Linked DNA regions of Homo sapiens. The protein of the gene in region 5 purifies or fractionates together with the protein of the main gene of each other region. This does not show direct contact. Each region holds a gene or a part of one and is shown on either strand. Other genes may lie near its edges. The genes, in order: MYO1B, TYSND1, ARMC9, AGPS, CAT, NUDT19 and POTEJ.

Evidence for each region.
Region 1: the proteins of CAT (region 5) and MYO1B purify together in Homo sapiens (affinity purification with mass spectrometry; one large-scale study listed by BioGRID and IntAct). This does not show direct contact.
Region 2: the proteins of CAT (region 5) and TYSND1 purify together in Homo sapiens (affinity purification with mass spectrometry; one large-scale study listed by BioGRID and IntAct). This does not show direct contact.
Region 3: the proteins of CAT (region 5) and ARMC9 purify together in Homo sapiens (co-immunoprecipitation; one large-scale study listed by IntAct). This does not show direct contact.
Region 4: the proteins of CAT (region 5) and AGPS purify together in Homo sapiens (affinity purification with mass spectrometry; one large-scale study listed by BioGRID and IntAct). This does not show direct contact.
Region 6: the proteins of CAT (region 5) and NUDT19 purify together in Homo sapiens (affinity purification with mass spectrometry; one large-scale study listed by BioGRID and IntAct). This does not show direct contact.
Region 7: the proteins of CAT (region 5) and POTEJ purify together in Homo sapiens (affinity purification with mass spectrometry; one large-scale study listed by BioGRID and IntAct). This does not show direct contact.

Annotation. Positions count from the first base shown.
Region 1 is NC_000002.12:191,409,404-191,412,903, forward strand, and holds part of MYO1B (unconventional myosin-Ib), read left to right. Parts: intron 1-1,662; coding exon 1,663-1,769; intron 1,770-3,500. UniProt on the Homo sapiens protein: Motor protein that may participate in process critical to neuronal development and function such as cell migration, neurite outgrowth and vesicular transport.
Region 2 is NC_000010.11:70,140,591-70,143,700, forward strand, and holds part of TYSND1 (peroxisomal leader peptide-processing protease), read right to left. Parts: intron 2,264-3,110; coding exon 2,078-2,263; intron 1-2,077. UniProt on the Homo sapiens protein: Peroxisomal protease that mediates both the removal of the leader peptide from proteins containing a PTS2 target sequence and processes several PTS1-containing proteins.
Region 3 is NC_000002.12:231,205,131-231,208,630, reverse strand, and holds part of ARMC9 (lisH domain-containing protein ARMC9), read right to left. Parts: intron 2,434-3,500; 5' UTR 2,393-2,433; coding exon 2,342-2,392; intron 505-2,341; coding exon 379-504; intron 1-378. UniProt on the Homo sapiens protein: Involved in ciliogenesis. It is required for appropriate acetylation and polyglutamylation of ciliary microtubules, and regulation of cilium length. Acts as a positive regulator of hedgehog (Hh)signaling.
Region 4 is NC_000002.12:177,391,612-177,395,572, reverse strand, and holds the start of AGPS (alkyldihydroxyacetonephosphate synthase, peroxisomal precursor), read right to left. Parts: upstream 2,801-3,961; 5' UTR 2,784-2,800; coding exon 2,524-2,783; intron 2,519-2,523; exon of another isoform or gene 2,449-2,518; intron 1-2,448. UniProt on the Homo sapiens protein: Catalyzes the exchange of the acyl chain in acyl-dihydroxyacetonephosphate (acyl-DHAP) for a long chain fatty alcohol, yielding the first ether linked intermediate, i.e. alkyl-dihydroxyacetonephosphate (alkyl-DHAP), in the pathway of ether lipid biosynthesis.
Region 5 is NC_000011.10:34,441,934-34,445,433, forward strand, and holds part of CAT (catalase), read left to right. Parts: intron 1-3,500. UniProt on the Homo sapiens protein: Catalyzes the degradation of hydrogen peroxide (H(2)O(2)) generated by peroxisomal oxidases to water and oxygen, thereby protecting cells from the toxic effects of hydrogen peroxide.
Region 6 is NC_000019.10:32,711,557-32,714,292, forward strand, and holds the end of NUDT19 (acyl-coenzyme A diphosphatase NUDT19 precursor), read left to right. Parts: intron 1-195; coding exon 196-401; 3' UTR 402-2,236; downstream 2,237-2,736. UniProt on the Homo sapiens protein: Fatty acyl-coenzyme A (CoA) diphosphatase that hydrolyzes fatty acyl-CoA to yield acyl-4'-phosphopantetheine and adenosine 3',5'-bisphosphate.
Region 7 is NC_000002.12:130,610,045-130,614,239, reverse strand, and holds the start of POTEJ (POTE ankyrin domain family member J), read right to left. Parts: upstream 2,801-4,195; 5' UTR 2,708-2,800; coding exon 2,298-2,707; intron 1-2,297.

The DNA.
Region 1 (3,500 bases), on a different chromosome or scaffold from region 5:
GAGCACAGGGCTGCATTTTCTTTCCATTCCAGGTTCCAGCTGCTCTCAAGTAGTTCAGTTTTTTGTTCATTTGTTTCTCTCTTTGTCTAAAGGAATACTGTAGGACAGAGAAATCATAAAATTTGGACACCTTCAGGCAACATAGTTAAATCCTGCAAATTGAAGAGTTTACTTTATCAGATGTACAGAACAGATAATCAGATAATACATGTGAACACACACACTTTGATGGGTGGGAAAAAAGGCTTTTTCCTGTCCCTAAAGATAGTAACACATTCTCTATCTAAATTACAGGGAAGCTGGAAATCTGTTTTATACTGCCTTTTATTTTAGCTCTCTTATTTTGTATAAGAGGACATGGCATGTAATTTAGATGTTGCCCAGCATGGAACACGTGGGGCACTTGTATAGATGTTGACCTTACTTCGATAACCTAGTCAGTTGATATGTGGAATGTTAAATATATGCAGTTATCAGATGTAATAAAATCATGAGATGGAAGGGCATGTATTTAGTAAATGAATGCTCAGTACACACATCCTCCAGGAAACTTTCCTGCCCAGCACGGTGGGCTTGTTTTTTTGTTAGAATCATCTATGTATAGAGTGACATTATTGCTGATTAGCTTGATAAGTGGTACCATACAACATAAGGAACTAGATTCTGAGTTCTGTTCTCTAACAGCAAATTTGGCGAGGTTCATGAACCTCTTAATGGCTTGTCTCCTTTCTTGAGTCTAACCCAGAAACTGTTTTCAGAAATAATGACAGGGAGCTCCCATTGCTGGGGATCTGCACCACCTCTGCCCTCCCCTGGCTTTGCAATCTCACCCATCCCTCCATTGGATTGGAGGTGGGAGATGAGGGCTGTTTATTCCTGAAGGGAGCCTTTCCATGGAAAGGGTCAGCAGCAATGCTCACACTTCTTCATGCAATTATTTCAGTAGCACTTGACCACACCTGTAACTGAATTTCTAGGAATGCTCATCTAAAAAACCTGGCCCTGCTCCTCTGGCCACTGTCTCCTCTCATTGCAGCTTCAGGGATGGAGTGAAAGGGGATATCTCAGGTCCCTCATCCCTATTGTAAAATGGTAGTGGGGGGATTTGGAGCAGTGGTTTTCAAACTGTCATAGCATATTTGTGGTCATGAAATCAATTTAGTGGATTACTACCAGCGTTTTTCAATAAAATGCAATAGAATAGAAAATAGCAGAGTGTACAATATATAGAAAGGATTGAGTATTGTTTTGTGACGCTTTTGTGTCAGTTTTCTCTGTATGTGTGTGGAAATGTGCTTAGTGGATTGTGATGCACAATATTTTTACTGTGAGTCTCTCTAGAAGAGTGACAGCCTCAGGACTAGAGGATTTCCAAGGATTGACATAGTGGGAGGAAATAGTACTTGCAAGGCCCGTGCCCACTAGGCCCTGGTGTGTTTTGAAGAAGCATTCCAGGTTCTGCAATACAAATAATACTCTGACGTTTTCCAAGACAAACTTTTTAAAACCCACAAGGGAAAAATGTTTTTGGCCTTTTTTAGTGAATGTTTTGTACTTTCTCCCTTATTCTTGTTGCTGATAAATTGTCTTAGCATATTTAAGAATGAGTAATAATTTATTTATATAAATGATGTTTTGTTTCTTTCTTCTCATATCTCACAGTGTAAAAAATACAGGGACCAATTCACAGACCAGCAGAAACTTATTTATGAAGAGAAACTAGAAGCCAGTGAACTCTTCAAAGACAAGAAGGCTTTATACCCATCTAGGTATTATGGCTTTGCTTTACCCATAAAATTCAGGATTATAAAAGTTTCTCAAGTATATTTGTACGCCGTTTTGCCTGGTGTTTGATTTCAGTCTTAGATGAGTGATTTTTAGTTCTGTGAATCATTTTATAATCAGCTTGATGTAAACACATTTATTTGAGCTATGGCTTCTATAGTGCAGTTTAATGAAATGAGGTTACGATTGTTGGTTTCACTCCATTAGCATTAGCTCAAACACTTTACTAAATAATTAGAAGTCATTTAACATAAAAATTATATAGGCTGTTAAGATACGTTTGCATTGTAAATTCCTGTTCCTTTTCCGTAGTTTTCAAAGACTAGCCAAATTTCTGTTGGCAATATACTTTAATCACCATTCCAGTCTTCCTGCCATAGCAAGCAAGGTCAGAAACTTATTTGTAAGGTAAATGAAAGAGCGAGCCAGGACAGTACTTTTTGAGTGTTGCTTGAGCACTGGTCTGTGGTGCCCTTTGGTCTGCTAACTCAACGGATATGACTTCTGTGGCCTGTACAGCACGTTCAGTTCCTTTATTTTAGACACCGTGGACTCAGAAAAAGAAGGAACACCAATCCCAAGTTCAGCAAGTGAAGTCCTTGGTAAAGACTGTTTATCCCAATAGTCTTACATCTCCTGCATTCATCACTTCCTCCCAGCAATCTAATCCCATTTTCATCTGGTGTTTATAAAAAAGTAGATTGTACAATTTCAAGCCAAATCTGTAACAACTTTAAGCTTCTTCCAATGAATGGCCAAAGAAAGAATGTATTATATGCTGAGTATATTCACATTTATTACGTAAATTATGTTTATATTCTCTGTGACTTTATACACATTTAAAATATCTTCCTTTTAAAGGATTAAAGGAATATACATTGCCAGACTCACTGGGTTTAAATATTTTAAATTGTACAACTTCATTGGTTAGCTGATGTGGCTACTTGAGGTGATACATACTCCCTTAAGTCAAACACAGTGTCTAAATCCAAAGTTGTCCAAAGTGCCTGTTATATAAAGCATATTCAAACAGGAGAATTTGTCTGTATGCTTGCTTCAGCAACTAATTTTATTCAGCTTTTTTTTTATACATTTTTAAATTAGGGAATAACCTTCTTAATGAACATTTCCTGTGGATGACTCTTCAGAAACTACAGGCTGGAAAATACATCTTTGAGGAAACAATTTAAAAGCCTGTTAGCATTTTTATAATTTAAAACACAGTTGAATAGGAACCAAAAAAAGTTAACTTCAAGCCAAGTCCTTTTTGGGTAGTCTTATCAGTTTTCAGGGATAGTGGCACACTCACCCCACAGCAGTGAGAGAGGTGGAATAATTTAGCCTCCCACCACCCTGCAAAGTGGCAGCTCTTATGGGAGTTGGCCTTTTATATCCTGAGAGCTGTGAAACGCTGACCACCTACGTGGATTTTTCTTCCCTTATCCTCCACCCACAACATAAGCATTTAAATTTGTATTTGCAAATTGCCAGAACTTTGTAGCTCAAAATGAAGCTTATAGATTCCTTGAAGCAGCAGTTTTTCCTTGGTGCCTTTGATGAACCTGTCCTGAAAGAGTCCCCCGACAAGTCTTTAGGGAAATTGATATCTTAGTGATAAGTGTACAGTTAACCTTTTACAAAAATTAGTTTGTTTGGGAAAAAAAAAATTGCCCTGATTCTGAATGTTTGCTTTGGTTACTTCTGTCCATTTAGAG
Region 2 (3,110 bases), on a different chromosome or scaffold from region 5:
GCATGGATGTGTGTGTAGTTTTTTAAAGATAATTTCAGACATACAGAAGTCTTGCCTAAATATTGCAGAATTCTATATACCCTTTGACCAGCTTTCCTTTATGTTCGTATCTAATGTCACCAAAAAATATTTATCAAAACCAAAACATATACCTTGGTAGAATACTGTTATTAAGTGAACTACAGAACTCATTGACATGAGTTGCACTAGTTTTTCCACTAATGTCCTTTTTCAGTTCCAATATCCAGTCTAGGACTCCATATTCCATTTAGTTGTCGCATCTCCCAAATCTCCTCCAATCTGGGTCAGTTCCTCAGTCTTTCCTTATCTTTCGTGGCCTTGACATTTTTAAAAGTGCAGGTTATTTTATTTATTTACAGTTTTTTTTTTTGTTCTTGTTTTTGTTTTTTTAGAGGCAAGGTCTCGCTCTGTCACCCATGCTAGAGTGCAGTGGTGGGATTATAGCTCACTGCAACCTCAACCTCCTGGGCTCAAGTGATTCTCCCGCCTCAGCCTCCCTAAAATATTTTGTAGAGATGGGGCCTCACTATGGTTGTCCAGCTTGGTCTTGAACTCCCAGACTCAAGCAATCCTCCCGCCCTGGCCTCCAAAAGTGCTAGAATTACAAGTGCGAGCCACCATACCTGGCTTTTTTTTTTTTTTTTTTAAATAAACACTGTTTATTTTTTTGAGATGGGTCTCGCTCTGTCACACAGGCTAAAGTGTAATGGTGACCATAGTTCACTGCAGCCTTGAACTCCTGGGCTCAAGTGATCTTCCCACTTCAGATTCCTGCAGAGCCAGGACTACAGGCACATACCACCATGTCTGGCTCAGGTCAGTGATTTTAGAGAATGACCCTCAATTGAGGCCTACCTAATGTTTTCTCATGACTATTGGGTTGGTGCAAAAATGAATGCGGTTTTTGTCATTACTTTTAATTGTTTTGCCATTACTTTTAATTGTTTAAGGTTACACATTATTGGGAAGAATACCATAAAAGCCATGTGTCCTTCCCAGTGTCTCAGCTATCTGATGTCTGTATGGAGTACTTCTGACGTTCACCTTGATCACTTGGCTGAGGTGGTATCTGCCAGGCCTCTCCAAGGTAGACTTAGTATTTTCCTTTCTTTTTTTTTAATTAAAAAAAATTTTTTTAAATAAAAATAGAGGCAGAGTCTCACTATGTTGCCCAGGCTGGTCTCGAACTCCCATTTCAAGTGATCCTCTTGCCTCAGCCTCCGGAAGTGTTGGGATTACTGGCACGAGCTACCACACCAGGCCTAGACTTATGGCTCTAAATATTACTTACGGCTCCAATATTTCCTCTTTGTAAGTACTAAATATTTAGAGGAAATATACTAAAGTTATGCAAATACAATTTTACTTGTATACTAGGATGGAACAGATAAGTAAACATATTGTAGACAACAAGAGCAAGGTTTTTCACTACAGGAGAAAGAAGAAACAAGGAGAGTTAGACTGGACTGGAGTTGGAGGTTTCTAGATGAACTCATGTTTTTTTCTTTTTGACAGCTAAACAGACTGTTTTTTAAAAACCTGAATGTTACCAAAATTTAAAAATTGATCGATTTAACGGCCACATGTATTTTTTTAAAAAAGCTTTACATGTCTTGTGAAAATATTAGAATACCAGCCAACGTTAGGCCCATCCTCCTTCATGGCCACAGTCTGCAGCAGCTGAGTCGAGTGCGCTTCAGTTTAGACCCCTCCCCTCCCCTCCCTGTTGTCTTCTCATTCATTTGCTTTATCTTTCCAGCCTCTGTTGGCTTTTGAGTCTGTGACGCTTTGACTAATCCAACTCCTCAATTTCACAGATCAAACCAGATTAGATTAGTAGCAGAGAAGGGACCAGAGCCCAGATCTCTTTCCTCCCAGTCCAGCATCCGTCCCTCTCCACCATCAGGAGAACAGCCTGCAAACCTTCGCTAGCTCACTCATAATGCCCACCATTTTCCCAGACAGAGGGTGCACTGGGGCTGGCCACAAGCACTCATGGGGTGGGACTGAGGTTCTGGCAAGTGGGAGGGCGGGAGGGGGCCAAAGAGCTGGTTACCAAGGAGGTTTCCTGAGTGGTTGGAGAAGAGGGGTCCCCCACTGGAGCCGCTGTGCACAGCACACGTGGTCTGCAGCATTACGGGCGTGCCATTCACCTGCACCACAGCCGAAAGGATGCCTGAGGTCACCGAGGGCCCGCAAGACTGGCCAAAGACGCCAAAGCCCACCACACTCACAGCCTCGCCTGCCAGGGAAGGAAGGAGGGTGAAGCTGGGGACACCTGTGTTACAGCAGGACTCACACTCCCTAACTCCCATCCCTACCCTCTCCAAACATTCCAAACCTCTCCACCCTTCAAGTTTCTGCTCAGATACTCCTGCCTCCAGAGAGCCTTCCCCATGTCCCCTGGCTGGAAGAGGCTGAGAACTCCACTGAGCTCCTAGCACTGTATCTGCATGACCACTTCTGAGCAACAGGCTGTTCCCTAGTCCTTGTTCCCTGGACAGGCGGGGCAGTGACTTTTAGGAGTTCCTAACACCTACCTACATGCTCAATAAATGTTTGTGGAATTCACACCCATCTCCTCCTGGAACTCCTAAGAAGTCTCTTCGTGAAAAGAAATGGTGATGATGGCTATAATGCAGCCATGACCTTCCTTTTCCAAGTGCAGGGTATGGGGGTAAGTGCTTTACAGGCAACGTCACACCCAGCCCTCACAACACCCAGAAATAGGATGCATTAGCCCCATTTCAAAGACGTGGAAAATGAGGCAGAGGATAGTTAACTAGCCTGTCCAAGGACATGGGACTAATAGGTGGCATAGGAAAGATGCCCATCCAGAGCCCCTGGACCCTTCATCACTGTATCACACTGCCTCCATGGAGTGCAACATCAGTACTTATGTGGCAGCATCACAAAGCCTTTTACCCAAATCGTGCCCCTGGAGCCTTGAAAGTGCCACATGCCTCTCTGACCAGCCTGAAGTGTTAAGGAACCCCAAAGGCCCAGCATCCTCACACTACATTGCTGCAGGCACTCGGGGAAAGGGCGTGCAGCATTATCCTTCCCAGGGCACTCCATGTGCCCCACCA
Region 3 (3,500 bases), on a different chromosome or scaffold from region 5:
AGCTAGAATGCAAATGCTGTGCTGGCAAGGGGCTGGATTTTGTTTGTTCACTGCTGGATCCCCAGTGCCTAGAATTAATAACCTGAAACTCCTCAGGAGGAAGGCTACAATTGTCTCAGTTCCTAAACACTGCATGGTTTCTTCTTTTCCTTCTTCCCAAGAAATGTTTGTGAAAGATCTTATATGGCCACACATTTCCTGGGGAGGGTACAGAGATTTAAAATGACATTATTAGTTCATCTATAAACACTTGTGCCATCTAAAGTAACTCTGAGCAAGTGCTCAAAAACTATTCTAGCACTATCCAACAGCAGCATTTTCCACAAGTTGGGAGCATCCTGAATTATCTACAGGGATGAAAAATAAGCAAAATGTTACCTGAATTGTCAATGATTTGGAGTCTCTGAAAGATCCGCCTACTGTTTTACACAATGGTTTTCCTTTTATTTTGCATTCTTTTGAAAATGTTTTCAAGGTGTCTTCAAATTCAGCAAAATCTAAATACTATAAAAAATAAATAATTCAATTCAACAGCAAAACAAACAAATAATCCAATTAAAAAACAGCCAAAGGATCTGAATAGATATTTATCCAAAGAAGACATTAAAAAGACCAACAGATACATGAAAAGGTGCTTAACATCACTAACAATCAGAGAAATGCAAATCAAAACCACAGAGACCTAATTACCTCACACCTGTCAGAATGGCTATTACAAAAAAGACGAAAGATAAAAAGTCTTGGCAAGGATGTGGAGAAAAGGAAACACTTGTGCACTCTTGGTGAGACTGTAAATTGGTACGGCCATTATAGAAAACTGTATGGAGGTTCCTCAAAAAAATAAAAATAGAACTACCGGCCAGGAGCCGTGACTCAAGCCTGTAATCCCAGCACTTTGGGAGGCCAAGGCGGGTGGATCACGAGGTCAGGAATTCGAGACCAGCCTGGCCAGCAAGGTGAAACCCCGTCTCTACTGAAAATACAAAAATTAGCCAGGCGCAGTGGCGCGTGCCTGTAGTCCCAGCTACTCGGGAGGCTGAGGCAGGAGAATCGCTTGAGCCCAGGAGGTGGAGGTTGCAGTGAGCAGAGAAAGCACCACTGTACTCCTGCCTGGGCGACAGAGTGAGACTCCATCTCAAAAAAAAAGAAAAAAAAAAGAAAAAATGGTATAGGCCAGGTGGCATGGCTCATGCCTGTAATCCCAACACTTTGGGAGGCTGAGGTAGGAGGATCGCTTGAGCCTAGGACTTTGAGACCAGCCTGGGCAACAAAGCGAGACCCCATCTCAAATAAATAAATTTTTAAAAGAAAATGTGTTATATAGGTAGGGTGCAGTGGCTCATGCCTGCAATCCCACAACTTTGGGAGGCTGAGGCAGGAGGATTGCTTGAAGCCAAGAGTTCAAGACCAGCTTGGACAACAGAGTGAGATCCTATCTCTACAAAAATTAGAATAAAACCTAGCTGAGCATGGTGGTGCACGTCTGTAGTCTCAGCTACCCAGGAGGCTGAGGCAGGCAGATTGCTTGAGCCCAGGAGTTCAAGGCTACAGTGAACCATGATGATGCCACTGCACTCCAGCCTAGGCGGCAGAACAAGACCTTGTCTCTAAAAAGATTTTTAAATGTAAATTTTTTAAAAAAGAATATATTCGCCATCACACCACCAAATTCCAAATCTGCAGTTGCACGGTGGGTGCCTCATCCCTGCTCCAGGCCCGTGGCTCTCGCAACCTGCAGGTGGTTACTCACACAGTTAAGCAGCAGCAAGCGCGAACCATTTCTTTAGCACCAGAAAGTTTAAGGCCTGGGCCCTACTTGTCAAAGCTTTTAGCGTAGGAAACCTAGGCCATTACCAGACAATGAGTTAAAAAAATTATGATGCAGCCACTCAATGAAATACTCTATGGCATTCAAATGTCTAGGGCCGATCATAGGCAGATGTTCATGCTATATTATTGTTGGCAGATAAAAAGCAAGCTACAGAACAATGTATCATCCCATTCTGTAAAACAAACTACAGGCATGTGAATATATTTTTACTATACATAGAAAAAAGTCTGGGAGGGAAATTTCCTTTTTATACTTCTGTAGTGCTTGAATCTTTTACCGTGGACGTGTATTGCTTTTATAATTTTCTTTCAAGGGACTTTTTAAGTGGCTTTAAGATTTGTTTAGTTATAAAACCAAAATGTAAATACATGGAATATTATATAATAGAAAAATAGCTCCAACATAACAATAGAAGAAACATTACAAGGCACTAAATAGTTTGTTGCATTTTAAAACACAAGTTTTCAAGATCTGTTTCTCTGTGACCTCTGCTTTGTATAATATACCTACCTCTTTCACTAGTCCAAGTAATTCAGATTCATGAGCCAGAATGTCCCCCATATTGAACTGTTACTGGTAATTAATTCTCACAGCAAAAATCTCTAGAAGGCAAAAATACAAGACAACAGCTTTCATTTCAACCACCTATGAAACTACAAAAAGGTGGTTGTGGTGAGCAGAATAATGGCCCCCAAAGACATCCATGCGCCAATCCCCAGAACCTGTGAATACGTGAGGTTACACGGCAAGGGGGAATTAAGGTGCAGATGGAATTAAGGTTGCTCATCAGCTGACCTTTAAATTGGGGGATGATCCTGGATTACCCAGGTGGGCCCAAGGCAGTCACAGCAGAGGGAGGGGGGCAGACGGAGGCAAGAGGGTCAGTGCCAGCATGATGAGATGTGAGAAAGACTCAACAGCCACTGCAGGCTTTAAAGGGGATAAAGTGGCATAAGACAAGGAGGGTAAGGAGCCTCTAAAAACTGCATAAGGCAAGGAATAGATCCTCCCACTGCATCCAGAAATGATCCAGCACTGCAGACACCTTGACTTCAGCTCAGTGAAAGCCATTTCAGACTTCTGACCTCCAGAACTAGAAGATATTAAATCTTTGTTGCTTGACACCACTCAGTTTATGGTCATTTGTTCAGCGGCACTAGGAAATACAATGGCTAAAGTCAAAAGAAACTCTTCCTACTCTTTCTACTAGCCCTCCCTCAAGGTGTACCCAAAGCAGTCATTCCCCATGGCCCACACCCCAGGCTCAGCCCAAAGCAGTTGCCCGTAACCCCAGAGGAATGAAAAGGTCTGGGCTCTAATGTTAACCATGCCATTCACTGGCACCTGATCTGAGACAACTCACTGAAGTGCAGAGCCTTTCTTCATCTATAAAATTCAGAATGTGTCAGAACTCATCGAATTTTTTTTTTGAGATGGGATCTCACTCCGTTGCCCAGGATGGAGTGCAATGGTGCAATCATAGCTCACTGCAAGCTAAAACTCCTGGGTTCAAGGGATCCTCCCTCCTCAGCCTCCCCAGTGGCTAGAACTATAGGTGCATGCCACCATACCCAGGTAATTTTTTTTTTTTTTTTTTTAAGTAGAGACAGGGAGACAGGGTCTTACTAAGCTGCCAAACTCCTGGGTAATGCAATCCTCCCGCCTTGGC
Region 4 (3,961 bases), on a different chromosome or scaffold from region 5:
AGGGAGACTTGGGTTCCTCATGATTATCTATCAAGTATATCACCCTCTGTGGAAGCTTTTGATGTGTCATCTAATACAAGTTTCTGTGTTCCCTCATATTTTGATGAAAATCTCAAAGTACCAGTACAGGACTAGATTTTACCACTAGTCGTCTAACCCCGAACCAAAGACCAGGGCTTCCCACCAGCTGTAACCTATGCAACAAATGGGTTACAGTCGTGCCTGAACTATCGATGCCTTCAGTCCTTGGAGCAGCCACACAGGGCATCCCTGACCAGTCACCTTCAACCATCATCTTGGTGTGCCTTACAAACGTTACTATTTTTTCTCTGAATGCTGTAAACCAAGCCATTAAATCTAACCATAAGGAAAACCTGCCCTCCTTACTTGGTTCTAAGAGTGTGAATCTACATAAAATGTACAATCACATATATGCATACAAATGAGAACACATAAATGTACATGAAACCATTTAGAAAATTTTAAACCTAATGACAGCTATTAATAATATAACCTCAATTGAAGCCAGGAGACGAGATGAAATCCTTTATTCCTCCCCTCCCCACCACTCAGTAACCAAGTTATGGAAAATTTACCTCCTAGCATTTTCTCAATTAAGTTGCCTACTCCCAATAATATGCCTTAGTTCAGAATCCCAGCATTTCTCCCTGGAATAATAGTCTCCTAGTCTCTCTGCCTTTAGACACTGTGAAAATTGCAGCTACCATTCTTTGAAAGGTTATGTAACAGGCATTGCACTAAACACTTGATCATTTAACTCTATTTTTTTCAATTCTCACAGCAACACTGCAAAACAGGATTACTGTTCCCGTTTTTACAAATGACGGTGACTGAAACTCTCAGAGGTTAAGTGATTTGCCCAAGATCATAGAGCTGTAACGGTGTAGTGGAAATTGAAATCCAGGTCTATGTTCCCAGCCATTATACTGCCAAAATGCTCAACTGTCTTCAATTTGCTCCCAGTGTGACCTTTATCAAAGGTAAATCTAATCATGTATTGCCCCACGTAAAATCCTGTAAACAAGATTCACCTCTCCAGTCTTCGTCCCCTGTCATTCTCACCCTCTCCTACTACACTTGAGTCTCAGCAGTTCCCTAATTTGTCTCTCACTTCTTTACCTGTGAACATACTGTTTGTATGCCAAGAACAATTTCCCCCTTTGGCAAACTATTAGTAATGCAAACATCCAAAATTTACTCAGACAATCTTTACTTTGGAACATCTTTGCACTAACAAACACAAACCCAAAACTGGGTTAAATGACCAGGTGGTATAGTTCCCAGTTAAGTTTCTTATAACGCTGTATTATAATTTTACCTACTAAGCTATTCCTTCCTTAAGAGTAAATACCGTATTTTTAAATTTCTGTATTGCTGGTACAGTGTGTATTTTGTAAAGACTCATGTATGTTGAATTAATTCATCAGAAGCAAGTATAGCTTAGGAACTTGGCCATGAAGTCAATTTGATGTGCTTTCAAATTCTAACCTGTCACACAGCATATCTGCTAAGACTCCAGCAGACTTAATTTATTCATCTGTAAAATGGGAGAAAACCGCACATACCTCATAGCTTGGGAAGAAACAAAGGATTTAGCACACTTTGGCACACTTAAAAGTACACTTTAAACATTAGCTACTTATTTTTTTCACTCTCGGTTTATCCATTTATCCACGGTGACAAAGCCACACGTCAGAAAGTAGCTTCTCCTAATAGCCTTCATCAGAGATTGAGGAGATCGAGACCATCCTGGCTAACACGGTGAAACCCTGTCTCTACTAAAAATACAAAAAAAAAAAAAAAGATTTCTCCAAAAACATCGAAAGTCAAGATCTCTTACAAACATCCCTCATCGGTTAGACTCTTGTCTTTTAGCTTCTGGTTACACAGAGCTCAGTAGCTATACCACCACACCTTAAACCACTAGCTAGTGTTTGCAGTTTATGGCTTCTTACCATTCATCGGTTTCCTCCCTCAAAGTCAATACATCTTGATCCTAAGCAAGTGGAACTTACCCCACAGAAACCAGTCAGCACCTTTTTCCAGGGCACCACCAGTTTCCCCCACAGCAGGCTTTCGCGAATGAGAGAGATTCCTATGATCTATCATCTAGTACAAATTTATATCTCCTCGGAGAAAAATAGAACCTCTGCTACCCATTCCAAGACCTCAGCACCAAAAGTATTAATTCAAGATAAAAAATGAATTCCTGGCACTAAAAGCTCAGGAAAAAGGAATCCTTTAAACCCTTCTCCAACGAGAGTTCTTCAAGCCTGTTACCCTCACATAGTGACCAAAATCCACCATCCCATCCCGCCCCCTTCCTGACAGAATCCAGGGTCTAGTCCACTCTCTCGAAAGAGAGGTGGGTCCCTACTTTCAGGGACCGGGATGCCTTCCGCCCACCCGTGTCACTTCCCTTCCCACCTCGCCTGTGCCCTCCTGCAGCACAGGCCCGGCCTGGTCCCTCGACGCTAACTCCTTCCACATACCGCTACTCACCGCTTCTTTGGGATGGTGCCCGACTCCTGCGCGGCGGGAGTGGCCGTGGGCGCTGCCGTGGCCGCCGACGCGGCTCTCCGCGCTTTGCACTCATTGGTACTCAGAGCCTCCCGGGGCCGGCCCAGCAGATGGCCAGAGAGAACCCGCAGCCTCCGCCCGGCGCGGTCCGGGTCCGGGTCCCGGTCCCGGTCCGCTGCAGACCCGTAGCTCGCGCCCGCGCCCAAGCCAGTCCCACCCGCTGCAGCCGCCGCCTCCGCCATGGCTACCGCCTTGTGCTGCCGCCCGGAACCGCTGGGCGCGGGTGAAAGGTCACTCAGAGCGGCGCCCGGCGCGACCATTCGCTGCGGCGCATCCCGGCAGCCACCGCGGCGACTTGGCGGCGGGTGCCATGCGTCTGGAGCTTCACATTCTCTGCCCCCCACCCACCGCGCCGGCGCTCCCTTGTCACGCCTCGGGAAGCGCGCACCTGCCAAGCAGGTGAGTTCGAGCTGACTCCCGGTTGGCCCAGCCCGGTCCAGCTGGACCGAGAGCCAAACCACGTCCGCCCTCGAGGTGTCCTAGAACCCTGGGTGGTGTCCTCGGGTGTGGCCTGGGGGCTTTCGAGGGCAGATGCCTTGGAGCAGGAGAAATGGGCAGTGCTACTGGACCTGATGGATCCAGCGGCATCCTTTTCCTGAAAGAGATTCTAATGTTCCACCTGTGCTCTTCCTCCCTGCGGGGTCACCAAAGTAACTCAAAGCTGACCATCATTGCCTCTAACCATTAGAGCAAATAGCTCTATCATTTTCTTATTTCTCACCACCTATTTCGTGCCTGGCACTGTGTTTAATGCTAGATCACAAGTAAGTACAGAAACTGAGTTGCAACTTAAGTTCTCATTTCATTCATTACTGGATCCTAACCCCTTCCTAACTTTAATAGAGATAAAGTTTCTTATTGCTACAGACAAAAATTACCCAAGAGCTGTGAAGACATCTCAGTTATTTACAGATTGAATTCATTTCTGGAAGATAGCACGTGAAAAGTGCTCCTCACCTGTTTCAGCCGGTGTCTTGCATAAGAATTAGCTTAGACAAAAACTCACATACACTGGCCATTGTCATTCTCCATCCTGTCACCACTTTCACATCATGCTTTCCTAACAAGAAAAATATTGGCAGAGGAATCTGAAGAACACCACATCCATGGGACTAGAGACTAACAATTGCTCTCTTGGGTGTTGCCAGCTTCTAAAATTGAGATTATGCCTTTAGAGTGAACTTCCAAAGAGGCCCAGACTGGTTAAAAACTCTCAATTAAGGGCTAAGCAAATTGCTGTTGGAGGGCCAGCTCTAGTCTGTGGCCTGTTTTTACACAGCCCTCATGCTAATGGTTTTTGTATTTGAGAAGGGTTGTTAAAAGAAAACAAGAAATTTTTTAAAAGAATATGCAACAGAGA
Region 5 (3,500 bases):
TGAGCCTTTTTCCAAAGTGGTTGTACCATTTTATACTTCATCAGCAGTGTATGGGAGTTCCAGTTGCTCCACATCCTACCAACTTTTGGTGTTGTCAGTCTTTTACATTTAGTTGTTGGGTGTGCAGTGGTATCTCATTATGGTTTTAATTTGCTTTGCTCTGATGACTAATGATGCAAAGCATCTTTTTACATGCTTATTGACCATTGGTATATATTCCTTTGAAGTATATGTTCAAATTTTCTGTCTTTTTAAAAATTGAATTGCTTTTAAATTATTAATTCATAGCCCATATTTTAAGTTCAATCATGTGGAATCATGTGTAGGCTAAGTGTTATAATAATAAATCTCAACATGTATCATGGTATAAACATATTAGAAATTTATGGCCGGGTGCAGTGACTCACACCTATAATCCAGCACTTTGGGAGGCTGAGGTGGGCGGATCACCTGAGGTCAGGAGTTCAAAACTAGCCTGACCAATATGGAGAAACCCTGTCTCTACTAAAAATACAAAATTAGCTGGGCGTGGTGGCACATGCCTGTAATCCCAGCTGCTTGGGAGGCTGAGGCAGGATAATCACTTGAACCCTGGAGGCGGAGGTTGCAGTAAGCCGAGATCCTGCCATTGCACTCCAGCCTGGGCAACAAGAGTGAAACTCCATCTCAAAAAGAAAAAAAAAGAAATGTATTCCTTTCCTACATGAATGGCCCAAAGTGGTTTGAGGTTGAAGGAGGTGGGTGGGTGCTCTGCTTCCCACAGTTATTGAGGGCACCAGGCTGAAGGAAGCTCCCCCTTGGTCAAACATGGCTTTTATGGGCGTCACTGTCCAGCACAGAAGGCTCAAGAGCGTGGAGAAGGGTATATGAGTGTGGGAAGGTTTAGGGTCCAGGGTCACTGCCACTTACATTCTGTTGGCTAGAACTCTGTTACAGGCCACACCTGGGGTAGTCTACCCCCTGTCCAGGAAGCTGACTCTACTATATTATCCAAAGCGTACATTTCATATTTGGTGAAAATCTGTCCAGCCATTTTCTTGTGATGCGGCAATGGACATGCAACATAATTTCTTTTTAAAGAATATGTCATTTTTACTTTCTGACATTAAGATATTCTGTTAGAAAATTATGACAGTAACAGATGGTATTAAAAAAAAATCTCCCCTTGCTTGGTAAATGCTTTTATCTAAGTGGGCAGCTTTGTGCTAATATGATGTCTTCCACTTCCCAATTAGTTGTGATGCTTTACTGATCTAGGAGAGCTTTATGGTTTGGGACTACTATAGGCGAACACTCTGTTGCCTCCTCTCTCAAGAATCAGAGTGTCCTATTTTGGAAACACAGTCAACCATGTGAAAGCAATTTATTGGGCGTATCTTCTGTGGTCAGATTTGGTTTGCTGACAGGTGAATTGGGAGTTTTGTAAACTTTAATAAGTGAGCATTGAGTCAGATGTGTTCATGAGTATGACCTCGATCCACTTAAAAATTCTTATTTCTTTTTCTCTCTTGGCAGGAGGGAGGTGGTTGTGCAGGTATTCCCAGCCACTTTGAAGGGAACTTAAATGGGAACTTTATTGCTCACTGCTTAGAATGCCATGGGCTCTTCTTTTGAGATACTTACCTTTAACCCATTTCCTTTTTTTTTTTTTAAGTGCAGCTTGCTGCCAGTGCTCTTTTCTTGGGGGTAAATGGGAAATGTTAATAAGTAGCCTCTGATCCCTTTAAAATGGGAGAATTTGAACATTTCAAACCTTACCTTTTTATACAGTTCTCTTATTACCTGGGAGAGAGGTTAAGTCTTAGACTATCCATTTCTGTCAGTGAGTTGCCTATGCATTATAGCCTGTGAGGGTCTATATTTTTTTAGGGTAATCCTGGTAATAACTGCATTGATGTTACACTGCTAACATTTGGGATGGAGAAGGGGTGACTGAGTGACTTAACCCTTGGTCCACATGTGCTTTCATTTCTCCTGAAATATACCTAGGTATGGAATCGCTAAGTCATTATGTGCAGTGGGAGAGACTATGGGAGATGGGACAGAAATTTTTAAGGTTTCATTTCTTTTTTTTAGCTTTTGCATGGTGGGTAGGTCTATGCAAACCTACCCCCAAAGTCTGAGGAAGCTGAGAGGCCAAAGAAAGAGGCTGACAAATCAAGTTTCTCAGAAAGAAATGTTTAGTAGGGACTTAGGACCAGAAACCATGTCTGTGTCTTGCGTGTTGGCGAGACAAGATGGTGGATCCCATACCATTACCCCTCAGACCCAGGGCTTAATACCATAGGGAAGGGCGATTCAGAAGGGAGGTATGGCATGACTGAAGTATGATAATGTCAAGGTTGTTTGACCTCAGGGCAGGATTTATAGTAAATAGGGGCTCTTTCACAAGGAATAATAGATAAACTGGAAATCTTAAAACTGGAGTTAATCAGAAGTCAGCATGGTGGATCAGTATCTAAGACGGAATTGCTTTAGCTTCCACAGCAGTCAATATCTAGACCACCCTTATTATTTTCCCACAGACCAAGAAATTTGAAGGTCAGGACAGTCTTTGGTTTCCTGTACGTGGGTGTATACGTTGTAGGCACTTGAATCTTTGTTGAATAAATGGAGAATGTTAGGCAGTTATTTGCTAGAAAACGCTAGGCACATTCTTTATCACAGAATGAAAAGACGTCATTATGACTCCTCTGGGACTGATGGGCAATTTGCATTAACCAATCTTTTAATTAAAAGTGGAAGAATATGTTTAGGTTCTTGAAACTTCTGTGAGTGAAGGGAACTACTAAGTGGAAAGTGTAATATGTTGATAAAATATTTCACCAGATGAAGCCAACCTTACTCCTCCCAGGAAAACTTCTTCATTTATGTATTAGCTCTGGCCAAAAGAAGCCTATAAAGGCAGCAAAGTCAAAATAGAATTTTACTTTAAGTCCCTACTTCTAATAATTGTGCTAGTTTTTAGCCAAGCTAATTTCTGTGGCAGTTTTCATAACAAGTGTGTCTAAAGGTGTTTGATCAGAATTTATAAATTAAAATATTTCTCTCATTTTTTGGAGGGGCGATGCAGGGAGAGGGATAGACTGTTGCTGCTTCCTCCTGCTTGTTAGAAAGGCTCTTGGCCATATCATATTGGTCCGTGGTTTAGTTTATTTGCATGCTGAATCCACACACATTTGTTTTATGTTTGTTAGTATATTGAGCAGTGTATTAGGGATCAGGTATATAGATGTAAAAGGAGTACACAGTCTAGAGAGGAAAAATAGTGACAGGCTGGGCGCGGTGGCTCACGCCTATAATCCCAGCACTTTGGGAGGCCAAGATGGGCGGATTTCTTGAGGTCAGGAGTTTGAGATCATCAGCCTGGCCAACATGATGGAACCCTGTCTTTACTAAAAATACAAAAATTAGCTGGGTGTGGTGGTGGTCGCCTGTAATCCCAACTACTTGGGAGGCTGAGACGGGAGAATTGCTTGAACCCGGGAGGAGGTGGAGGT
Region 6 (2,736 bases), on a different chromosome or scaffold from region 5:
ATCAAAATAAATACTGATTTAACAACTATCTCAGTTCCAAACATATGAAATAGATAAAAATACTGATTTGTATTTCATTAGTATATTGGAGTGATTTATAAAATAATACTCGATGGAATTAAAATTTTATACTTTCTGCCATGGTGAAAAATAATTTTGTATTTAAAAATAAAATCAGATTTTTTCCTTTTTCAGGTGATGAGCTATATTTAGAAGATTCAGACTTTTTGGAAAATCTTATGTCTACTGAAAAAAAGACTGAGGAAATCATGAAGGAAGGCAAGCAGTTTCACCGGATAGTGACATACCATCGCCACCTTTATGATATCCACGTGACTGTTCAGCCAAAGTATAAACACGTTTATCCTAAGAACTCTGTAGTAAGAAAAAGCCATTTGTAGGGTGCTTAAGCTTGTTTGTAAAATGGCCTACTTGAAGTCCTCATGAATAATGAGGGTTGACTTTCATTTGCTTGAAACTTAAGGAAGTTTGTGCCTATAAAAGTTACTGCAATTCAGTATTTCTTTATTTTTTTCGAGACAGAGTCTCAATCTGTCGCCCAGGCTGGAGTGCAGTGGCATGATATAGGCTCACTGGAAGCTCTGCCTCAGGGGTTCATGCCATTCTCCTGCCTCAGCCTCCCGAGTAGCTGGGACTACAGGCGCCCGCCACCATGCCCAGCTAATTTTTTTTTGTATTTTTAGTAGAGACGGGTTTTCACCGTGTTAGCCAGGATGGTCTCAATCTCTTGACCTCGTGATACGCCCGCCTTGGCCTCCCAAAGTGCTGGGATTACAGGTGTGGGCCACCACACCCAGCCTTTTTTTTTTTTTTTTTTTTTTTTTTTGAGACAGAGTGTCTCACTCTTGCCCAGAACCCAGGCTGGAGTGCAGTGGCCCAATCTCGGCTCACTGCAACCTCCACCTCCCAGGTTCCAGCGATTCTCATGCCTCAGCCTCCTGAGTAGCTGGGACTATAGGCATGCACCACCATGCCCCACTAAATTTTGTATTTTTAGTAGAAACAGAGTTTCACCATGTTGGCCAGGCTGGTCTCGATCTCCTGACCTCATGATCTGCCCGCCTTGGCCTCCCAAAGTGTGGGATTACAGGCGTGAGCCACTGTGCCCAGCATGGTGTTTCTTATATCAGGTGTTTTAGGGAGCTCGCTTGCTTATTCCATTCTTTAATCCTTACAGTGTGCCACACGTATAAAGTTTATAACGTATTAATGATCTCATTACCCAAAACCAGAACATAATTTCACAAGGGTTCCTACTTCTGTATTGTTTTATTATCTCAAAAATTTAAATAACATGTTCTGCTGTTTATTGTTCTTGTTATCCACTGTATTAGCACCTTCCCTGATGTGCTTTGGAGGTTGATCAATGAATTTCTGAGACTTTCTGCTGGAATTACTTTAAGGGTGTCTTATTAGATGATGAAAAGTTGGCTGAGACACCCTTCAAGTGACCATGTCATTGTTTTCTTGCTATGTCTTTAGCTTAATGATTAAGATACAATTCTTTTTAAAATCAAATGGTATTAGTTATTATGTTTCCCAAATTAGAAATCGATTTTAGTTAACATTTTATTTTATTTTATTCTATTTTATTTATTTTTGAGACAGAGTCTCGCTCTGTTGCCCAGGCTGGAGTACAATGGCGCAATCTCAGCTCACTCCAATCTCCGCCTCCCAGGTTCAAGCGATTTTTCTGCCTCAGCCTCCCGAGTAGCTGGGATTACAGGCACCCACTACCATGCCCAGCTAATCTTTGTATTTTTAGTAGAGACGGGGTTTCACCATGTTGGCCAGTCCGGTCTCGAACTTCTGACCTGAGGTGATCTGCCCACCTTGGCCTCACAAAGTGCTGAGATTACAGGCTTGAGCCACCACGCCTGGCCTAGTTAGCATTTTAAAGAAACACAAAGCCATAACAAAAACCATCATTGTTTGTATTCCACACTGTTAATGAATGTAAAGAGGTTAGAAATGTAGTGTTTGATTAATGATGTTTATTTTTACTGTATTTAATATGAGTAATTTTTCATCATCTTTCAAGAGGAATAATGTTTATTGATTAAAGGTGAGAAATGATAGTTAAGACACCAATTCCATGTCCAGATCTTTGACTGTATCATGCATTGTACAATTGATTTCATATTTTATGAAATGCCTTAATTTTCCTACTATAACATAAAGACAATGATGAATAAAGTTTATGTGTATGATTAAATCCAGATTAGAGAACTATATCTAGCACAGCAGTCCTCAGCCTGGGCACTTTTGCCCTAGGGAACATTTGGCTATGTCTGGAAACATTTTTGGTTGTTGAAACTGTGGGCAGAGTGGGTGGGTGGGGGAGTATGCTACTACCATCTAGTAGTAGGGAGAGGCCAGGGATGCAACTGAACAGCCTGCAATGCGCAGTCTCACCCATAGCAAAGAATTACCTGACCAAGGATGAGACACCCAATCTAAAGTAAAATCTTTTTTTTTTTAAATAAATGGTTCCAATATGTAAATTTTGAGAACCACAGATACTATTATTCTGTCTGCCTTTTGAATCTACAAAAATGGGAAATTACGTCCAATTGGAAAAAAAAAAAAAGTTGGCTGGGCTGGGCGCAGTGGCTTATGCCTATAATCCCAGCATTTTGGGAGGCTGAGGTGGGCGGATCACCTGAGGTCAGGAGTTCAAGACCAGGCTGGTTAATGTGGTGAAACCCCATCTAC
Region 7 (4,195 bases), on a different chromosome or scaffold from region 5:
GTACCACTGTTCTTCATCCTCACAAACTTTGTGGATAGAAAACAGTATTTCATTCCTTTTTTTTTTTTTTTTCTTTTTTTTTTGAGATGGAGTCTCACTCTATCACTCAGGCTGGAATGTAGTGGCGCGATCTCGGCTCACTGCAACCTCCACCTCCCTGGTTCAAGCAATTCTCTTGCTTCAGCCTCCTGAGTAGCTGGGATTACAGGTGCGTGCCACCATGCCCAGCTAATTTTTTGTATTTTTAGTAGAGATGGGATTTCACCACACTGGCCAGGCTGGTCTCAAACTCCTGACTTCATGATCCACCGCCTCAGCCTCCTAAAGTGCTGGGATAACAGGCGTAAGCCACTGCACCCGGCCTTTCATTCCTCTTCTAACTTAAATAGAAAGCAGTATTTCATTCCTCTTCTAACTTAAATTCCTTCTTCTACCAGGAACACTGTATTTTCCTATGTGCATAGGTCACTGGTAGATATGCAAAAAAAGTACTTTGCCCAATTTTAAAATGAGCTTATTTTATTATGTCTGCATATATACACCAGGCACGGTGGCTCACGCCTGTAACCCCAGCACTTGGGGAGGCCAAAGTGGGTGGATCACGAGGACAGGAGTTCAAGACCTGCCTGGCCAAGATGGTGAAACCCCATCTCTAGTAAAAATACAAAACAATTAGCCAGGCATGGTGGCAGGCGCCTGTAATCCCAGCTACTCAGTAGGCTGAAGCAGAGAATTGCTTGAACCTAGGAGGCAGAGGTTGCAGTGAGCCGAGATCACACCACTGCACTCCAGCTTGGGCTACAGAGTGAGACTCCACCAAAAAAAAAAGTATATATATATATATATATATATATACACACACACACACATATATATGTATATATATACACACACATATATATGTATATATACATATGTATATATATGTATATATACATATGTATATATATGTATATATACATATGTATATATATGTATATATGTGTATATATATGTATATATATGTATATATATCTGCGTATATAAATAGGCATTTATATTTTTTCTGGTATGTTTCTCCTTTTGTATGTTTAAAATTTTTAATCTATACTCTTATTTTTGTGACATAAAAATCTAGCTAGTTTTCTCCAAAAATGAATTATGAACAATCCATCTTTTTTAAATAATACAAAACATCACCATTATCAAGTGCTAAATTCTTACATATATTTGGGTATTTCTAAATTTCCTATTCTGTTCTATTCATTGATGTCTTTTCAGCTGTTAGTAAACAATTTGTGGAAATAAATAACACATGCACATTTTGATATCTGGAAAAGCAAGCCTTTTTCCATTCTGTTACAAAAAATTAATTTATCACAATAATAAAAGACAGCATGTGTAATTTAAAAACGCTAAAACTTTGCTATTTTTATTTGGCTTATGTAAAAGTGATAAATAGAAAAAGCTCACATCTTTTTTTTTTTTTTTTTTTTTTGAGACGGAATCTCGCTCTGTCTCCCAGGCTGGAGTGCGGTGGCACTATCTTGGCTCACTGCAAGCTCCGCCTCCCGAGTTCACGCCATTCTCCTGCCTCAGCCTCCTGAGTAGCTGGGACTACAGGCACCTGCCACCGTGCCCGGCTAATTTTTTTTATAATTTTTAGTAGAGACAGGGTTTCACCGTGTTAGCCAGGATGGTCTCGATCTCCTGACCTCGTGATCCGCCCGCCTCCCAAAGTGCTGGGATTACAGGCATGAGCCACCGCGCCCAGCCAAAAAGCTCACATCTTAAGAAAATTCAATCTTCCTATTCAAGCACAGGAACCATCTTCCCATTTCAGTTTCCTTCTAAGGTTCCTCAGTAAAGAACGTATTTACATAGGGTACATTGATATAAAATCCATACTGGATTTTATTTGAAGAATATTTAGCCCTGAAGTTGATGTGTTATGGGGCTTCATTCTTAGTTCTCAATATACACTTTTCTATAATGTATAGAACATTGTTTTAAAATCTGTAGATTAAAAATAATCTGCTGCATTGACTTAATTAATTTTGCAAGTTAAATCACTTTAAAACAGTCTATTAGTGTTCTACGAGGGAAATTATAATTTGATTGGAAATCAGCTAAAGTTTTTTTTGTGTGTGTTGCTGTTCATAAAGGGGCCTGTGCCCTGACCTCTCTGAGGTTTCCACAACCAGGGTGGTGTGAGGCCTGCGGAGGTGAGAAAGCCAGGTCCCCCTCCTCCCCCGCCAGGAGGGTATGTCCCCATCATCCCCCGACCTCCCACCTCCTCCCAGCCCAGGCCTGGTTACCTCTTTTGCTTGTCCTGCTTGTTCACGTCAGTGTCCCTGAGCATGACGATCAGATCCTTTCTGGCGACTTTACCCCACCAGGCAGCTCTGTGGAGCTTGTCCAGATCTTCTCGACGGACGTGGTATCTCGGCTCCACGAAGGCGCTGTCGTCGTAGTCTCCCCAAGCACCCACGTTGCTCTTGCCGCTCCCCCTGCAGCAGGGGAAGCAGTGGCAGCACCACTTGCCCATCTTGCTCCTGAGTGTCTTCATAGTGGAGTCGTCCTGGTCTCCAGAAGTGCCCACGTTGCTCTTGCCGCTCCCCCTGCAGCAGGGGAAGCAGTGGCGGCACCACTTGCCCATCTTGCTCCTGAGAACAAATGGCTTCTTCACAGAAGAGGCAGCCGGCATTGAATCAACCTCAGCTACCATCTGCTTTTAACAGCCTGGGGAGGCCGGTAGTAGCGAGCAGATCACGTCTACCAACCAGTTTCACCAACTAGCAGGTAACTCCGGGTTTCCAATCTGTTTGAAGAGAAAAGTCAATCCCAGCCAAAACCTGCCAACCCCAGCAGGTAAGCCCAACCCACCCCACCCAGGGAAAACCCACACCCACCCGGGGAAAGCCCACGCCCACCCGAGGAAGGGCCAACCCCCCCCCCCCCAAGAAAACACCCAGCCCACCCAAGGGAATGCCAAACCCAGCAGAGAAAAGGTCAAGCCTAGCAAGGGAACGCGAGAGAGGAAACGCCAATCCAAGGAGGAAACGTCAATCCAAGGAGGAACACCAGGCCAAGCGACCAACACCAAGCCAAGCAAAGAACGCAAAGCCAAGCCAAGCCGCTACAGGCCAGCCAAGCAGTTACCCGCGTGCAGCATGCGCGTGCAAGCCGTTACAGGCCAGCCAAGCCATTACGCGCGTGCGGCGTGCGCGTGCAAGCCGTTACAGGCCAGCCAAACCGCTATGCGCGTGTGGCGTGCGCGTGCAAGCCATTACAAGCCAGCCAAGCCGCTGCCGCGTGCGCGTGCGGCGTGCGCGTGCGGCGTGCGCGTGCGGCGTGCAGCGTGTGCATCTCAGGTGGCGTCAGTGCATGTGGCACAGACAGTGGCCAATGCGTGCAACCGCGTGTTTAAATCTTGGCGCCACGAATGTCACCGACAGCCTTATGTTCCTGGCAAACTTCATGGGAGTCAGCTGAGCTTTCAGGCCATTGAGAAGCCTCTGGTGAAAAAAAAGCCTCTTGAAGCAGGACTGGGGCTAAGCGGCTGGAACTTGAGGATGCTGACAGCCTCCTCTGAAGAAAGCCCCCGGGACACTCCTGGCGGTGCTGTTGTGCGTGGCAGCGTCTGCAGCTCGGAGCTGGGGCTGGAGGAGCTGGCTGCAAATGGCCTCAAAATCCCGGAGCACAAGATGCCCACTGAGCCCAGCGCCTGCCTGAGGTGCCTTTGACACCTGGTCCTCTTTGCTCTGCACCCAGAACACGAGGCCATCAGCGAGGGGGCATTTGGGGCCACAGGATCGCGGCCAGCTCCTGCCCCGGTGCCCCCTGCCCGGTGTCCAAGCCAGGGCCAACAGCTATAGGGCTTCTGGCCTGGGGGGCTCTGCTCCACTGGCATGCAATAGGGTCAAGGTGCAGACCGCTGTGTCCACGCCGGCAAGAGGGGGCTTGGAGGAGCAGTCACAGGACAGTACTCTCCCCTCCTGTGGATGACTCCTTCCTGCCCTTTCCTCTCTCTGCTAAAGCCTCCAACGTTCTCTGTCCCATCCATATGCTCCACTTATGCCCCTGCTTTTGCTTTGATTTTCTCATTAAAATAAATCTGCAGGCTGGCTGGGTGCAGTGGCTCATGCCTGTAATCCCAGAACTTTGGGAGACCGAGGCAGGTGGATCACCTGAGGTCGGGAGTTCGAGACCAGCC